Regions from separate parts of the Homo sapiens genome. Here region 1 is linked to region 2. Evidence: fine-mapped expression QTL. A gene starts in region 2. The other region holds a variant in brackets. All regions are shown on one strand. Distances are between the middles of the regions.

Region 1 (2,801 bases), 180 kb after region 2:
AGGAGGGTGGGAATAGGGATAAAAGAGAGGCCTTCATGGGCCAGTGATGATGGAGTTCCATGAAACCAAGAAGCACGTTTAACACAACTGTCTGCACCCAAGGTCAAACATGCATGCCTGCATGCACACACACAAAACAAAATGCCAAAGACAGATAAGAGATAGTCAGAGAGTAATAGGGAAGACACATACACATACACTAAATGATTGCATTAGTGTGTGGCAAAGGACATGAGACAGGGAGGGCTAAGTATAAGGATACTGAAAAAGGTCAAAGGATGGGCACCCATCTCTGCCTGGGAGAGCTGGGGCGGGCGCTTCTCAGCAGAGGTAACATTTGAACTGAATTTTGAAGGATGACTAGGAATTCACAGGCAGAGTGTGTGGGCAGCATTGTTGTCATCTGCAGAGTTGTGAGACAGCAAGGCTTACTTAGGAGGGGCAGGACTAGTACAGAGAGGCAGAAAGTCTGAGGTTTTGTGGGGAGGGAATGAATGGGGTGATGACATTGGAAGGGTGGGGAGGGCAGGTTGTGATGGTTACACAAGGAGAGCTGGTGAGGACTCTCCCATGCAGAGGCAGTAGGAATGGAATGAGAAGGATGGGAGAGGAACTGGAGAGGTGTCTGGAAAGGACTCAATGACTGGCATGAAGAAGACTCAGAGTTAGAGTTGCCACCTGACTTTGGGTAACAGAGCAAAGTGAGAGGTGTGTGGGAGGAGGTCTTGGTGCACAAAGAGGCAGTGGTGGTCAGTTATGTGTGATGTTTAAATGTAATTAGGGCAGTGTAGTGGAAAGAGCAGTGGTTGGAATCAGAGGACCTAGTTTTAAATTCTGGTTTCACCACTGTGTACCTTTAAGTAAGTCACTTAACCTCTCTGAGACTCGATTTTCTTATCTGTTAAATGGAGCTAATACACAGAGTACTCTTTTTGAACACTAAATTATTTAATATATAAACTTTGAGCACTAAATTAAATGGGCATGGTGTCTGGCCCATTTCAGGTGCTCGATTTAATCCAGATAAGCAGGTAAGCAATTTAAGGAGACAGGGGCTTACTACTGGGAATGATGGTGAGGTACGATCACCCATGAATGTGCTGAGCTACACCCCTGACTTGAGCTGAGCAGGTAGACACGGGTGGGGTATGTTGAAAACTGGTTAGGTGATGAAGACAAGTCAGAGGAGTTTGAAGGCAGTGTGTGTGTGTGTGTGTGTGTGTGTGTGTGTGTGTGTGTGTGTGTATGTGTGGTTCCTGCAAAACAAACCATCTGAACAGGTAGACTCAACGGTTGCTACAACTTTTGGTGCTTCCAGTGGCCCCCCTTGAACTAGGTTCTTAACTCTGTCTTCAAATTTCAGTCTGAAACCAGAGTATTGCCTAGGGGTGGAATTTGGTCTTCTCCGTATACACTGAAGTCAGTGAAGACTGCAAGGAACAGTAAGTCCAGTCTGCTATGAGCATCT[G/A]TCAACTCAGTTAAGCACACTCATGAGTAGTCATTATTCCCCTTTAGAACATCAGGCCCCAGGGAACAGAACAGCTGCTCTGCTGGCTTCATCTTTGTGAATATGGATGGGACCTGGTGCCTACAGAGGGCCAATGAGATGTGTGGGGAAGGGAGTGGGTGAAAAAGCTGGAGATGCCCCAAGACAGATAGACGAACAGATGAACAGGTATGCCAAGACCACTATCATTTAAGAGGTGCAGCCAGCTGAAATGGCAGGTGCTGGCATCTCCCAACACAAGTTCCACTCCTGATCAGAGGAAACAGTACAGGAACTCCTCCAGCTCTGCCCAGTGTACTTGACCCCCTACCTCTTCAATCAGGCACAGCCTTGACCTGCAGAGAAGCAGCCACGCTGGGTGCTGGGCTCAAAGGCAGCCACTGATGCAGATCAGGGTGTGAAGTATTTTAAAAAGCTGCAGTCGTATCTGCTATGCTCTAGGGAGCCTGAGAAAGTTTACTGCAGGCAGCAAGTGTCCTTAAGCATCCATTCAAAGCCTTTCCTGAGCACCTACAGTGTGCCCTGCTGTGTGCATGTGCTCAGCACTGTGGGGAAGACCCAAAGAAAGATCCAGCCTCAGTTTTCAGTTGAGCTGGTAGTCTGGCTAGGGGGAGGGGCATCAAAAAATACTACATGGATAAATAGGTAAGGAACAGACAACAATTAAGGTGCAATTAAACACCATTTGCCCATCCACTTATTCATCTACTCAGCAAATGTCTTGGAGCCTCTTCTCTCTGCCAGGCCAGCAATGTCCTTGGCGCTGCCTATTGGAGCTCATGGTCTGGTTTGGAGGTGGAGGTGGGTGCATGCTTGGTATAGGAGTAGACAGAAGCACAAGGTTCTTTTTGGGGAAGATGACACAGCCTCTGGGGTGATGACATGTGTTGAAACTGAAAGGTAGAGCAAGAGTTGGTCAGGCTGCTGGAGAGGGAGGTTGTTGGTGGGAGAGCAGTGCCTGGGTTTGAGGACAGTGGTCCCCTCATTGAGGCCAACCACATCCATAATCACAGACCAACTGCCTTCTTTCTTTTGAGAATGGGGACAAGAGTGGGAAAAGAGTAGGGTGAAAGTCCAGAGTCCCAGAAAAACTCAATCATTCCTGGGCAGGCTGGGATGATTGGTCATCCTAAAAGAGCGGTCTTGCCCTCACAATCATCGGGATGCTCCTAAACCATCCTCCAGGGCTTCGCTGAGCTATGCCTGAGCCAGATAGGTGGCCACACAAGACCAAGAGAGTGAAGGGACAGGGCCTCAGCCCTGGGAGCTCACACTCTGACCAGGTAGGTTTTCA
Region 2 (2,801 bases):
CATGCGGTGGGCTCTCAGAGATCGAGGCGCGAATGCAGCGCGCCGGTCTTGCTGTCGTGGTCCCAGTAAGAGCAATGCATCATGGCGAGCTCGGGCTGCCGGGCACAAGCGAACTGCAGGCCCGGCGCACTGGTGGGCGCGGGCGCCGGGGGCGCGGCGGTGGCTGGGCTGGCAGGGCTGAGCTGGCCCGGCGGCGGCGCGGCGGCCCCGTGGTGCGGTGGGGCAGGCGGCGGTGCGGCGGCCGCGTGCAGATGGTGTGCGTGCGGATGCGGGTGGGGGTGCGGCGGAGGCGGGGGTGCGGCCGGCGGGCCTCCCAGGCCATTGTACGAGTTCACTACGCCGGGGGGCAGCGCCATGCTCTGCACGCGTGTGTACGGCCCGTACGAGGCGGCCGGGCCCGCCAGCCCCTTGACCACAGCGGCCGCGCCAGGGCTACCGGGGCCCGCGGCTGCAGCCGCAGCTGCTGCAGCCGCTGCGGCTGCCGCCATCTGGCAGGAGGCATAGGGCATGGGTGAGGGAGGCTGCGGTAGCGGCCACGAGTTGTTGAGGAAGCCAGACTGCAGGTACTTGGGGGGCGCCAGGTAGCCGTAGCCGTCGGCCCCGGCGCCCGCCACGCCGCACCCGCCTGCGGCGCCTCCGGCCCCGAAGAGCCCCTTGCCGGGCTGGAAGTGCGCGGGCGGCGGCCGGAAGGGCCTCTTCATGCGGCGGCGGCGCCGGTAGTTGCCCTTCTCGAACATGTCTTCGCAGGCCGGGTCCAGCGTCCAGTAGTTGCCCTTGCGCTCGCCGCCGCCCTCGCGCGGCACCTTGATGAAGCACTCGTTGAGGCTGAGGTTGTGGCGGATGCTATTTTGCCAGCCCTTCTTATTCTTCTCGTAGAACGGGAACTTCGCGATGATGTACTGGTAGATGCCGGACAGCGTGAGCCTCTTCTCCGCGCTCTCGCGGATCGCCATGGCGATGAGCGCCACGTACGAGTACGGGGGCTTCTGCGCCGGGTCCGGCTTCTCCGGGGCTGTCCCGCCGCCACCCCCACCGCCCTTGCCTGGGCTCGGCGGCGGCCCTTCTGGCTCCTTGACTGTGCGACCGGTCTCTGGGGCCAGCAGGGCCCCCGCCGCGTCCTCGGGCTCGGGGTAGCTGGCCATCATGACAAAGCCGGCGCGCCGCGGCCGGGCCGCCTCTGCTCTCCGCTCCAGGCGCTGGCGCGGCAAAGAGTTGGGGCGCACGAGTCCGCTTACGGCCAAGTCTCAAACTTCTGGAGACTGCGGATGCCGCCCGCGCTTGCTTGCTGGAGGCCTGTCGCTGCTCTCCCCTCTCCTTCCCCTTCCCCTAGGGAGCGGCCGGCGGGAGTGGAGCTCAGCCTCTGGCCATGGGGAGTCCGCCCAACAGAGAGGGGCTCCGGCCTCGCCGCCCCTCCCCGCTCAGGCCAGTCCCCGCCTTGGTGGGTTTTCTTTTCTGCGCTCTTCCCCTCCCCCCGCCCCCCGGTTTCCCGAAGCACGACCCGCGTCTCTGGCGGAGCTGCCTCCTGGAGTCCCTAGTGCGCCAGGAGCCTCGCTCTGTTCTGATTCGTATGGGCTCCACCGAGTTCCGCTTGCGTCAGGCGCCTTCGCCCCTATAGCGGGGCGGCCAGCCGCGCACGGGCGAGTTCATCTCCAAGTCACTTTTTGTAAACGCCCCGCACAGCCTGGACCGGCCTGCCCCCGCCCAGCGAGCCTCAGGGGCCCAGCCGACAGCCAGGCTCACGCGCCCTTGAAATCTGCCGGTACTCGCTCTGCGGGCTGGGCTGGGAGATGACGAGGACCCCGGTGGGGTCTGCCCGCACCCGGCCAAAGCCCAGGAAGCTCGGGCCCCAGCGAGGAAAGGCGCTCCAAGCCTCCTCGCGGCTTTCAGGTGAAAGAAAACGACTCCTTTGCTCTGCCGTTTGCTGCCGTCTTGAGGCTGAACTTCTAGCTCGGGGCTGGGGAGGGGCGAGACGGCGAGGGGGCTGGACGGGGTAGGGTGGGGAGAGCTGCTCTGAGGCTTTGGGAAAGTCAGCCCAGAAACGGGTGTGACTGTACGAAGAAGCCTCGGCCTGGCCTGTCCCTCGCGCTCTCAGAGTGACTGGGCTGGAATGGGGCAGGGGAGAGGATCTCTGGAAATAGTCGTCAGGGGCGCCGCCTGAATCACCTCTGCCTCTCCCTGCGTTACCAGTGGATCTAGGAACCAGGAATCCGTGTACTAATCCTACGGGGTTGGAGTGAAGGTTGGATGTGTGCTTTAACAGCACCAAGTAGATGCCCCTCAGCTATTGCACTAACACAGGCGGGGCTGTTGCCCGGGACTTTGCGGGACTGTGTATGTGTGTGCACAGGGGTCACATATGGAAGTCATGGAGAGGAGCTGTCCTTGAGATGGGTGAGATACCAGGTGCATGTGTGCTGCTCAGAAACACAGGTATGCACATGTACAAGGTGTGAGATTTGTATTTACGAGGTAAAACACACTTATACTGATAGTTATGTAATATGTTCATCAAGTATTAGAGTAAATGTAGCTGGTGGATATAGCATCTTCTCTTTTTCTCCTTTCTTACTTCTTTCCTTCCCCCCTTTCTTCCTTTCTTTCACAATTCTTCGATGCCTCTTTCCCTCCCAGTGTATGTATTTTGCCACAGACTGGGAAGACAAACATCAGGCTGAGGGAGGGACTTGTTCAAATCTCTCTCCTGATGAGACATTTGTTCTGATCTTTCTCCAAAGAATCAGGAGTTAGTTGTCACCTACCTTAAGCAGAATTCTGATGGGAATCCAATTATTTCAGCATGT

Evidence for each region. PIP is the estimated chance that this variant, and not a neighbour inherited with it, causes the effect.
Region 1: its variant is the best candidate, but not a certain one, in a credible set for the expression of FOXL2NB in pituitary (GTEx, PIP 0.63).

The regions. Positions count from the first base shown.
Region 1 is chr3:139,128,589-139,131,389 of GRCh38, forward strand. No RefSeq gene overlaps it. Among named protein-coding and RNA genes, the nearest start is that of BPESC1, 26 kb to the left of the region's middle. The variant G/A (reference allele first, on the strand shown) is at 1,469.
Region 2 is chr3:138,945,578-138,948,378 of GRCh38, forward strand. FOXL2NB (FOXL2 neighbor) reads left to right here and starts at 1,640. Exons shown (of 3, transcript NM_001040061.3): 1 at 1,640-1,887. The coding sequence starts at 1,788. FOXL2 (forkhead box L2) reads right to left here and starts at 1,560. Exons shown (of 1, transcript NM_023067.4): 1 at 1-1,560. The coding sequence starts at 1,145. The coding sequence ends at 15. RefSeq lists a silencer at 1,576-1,804.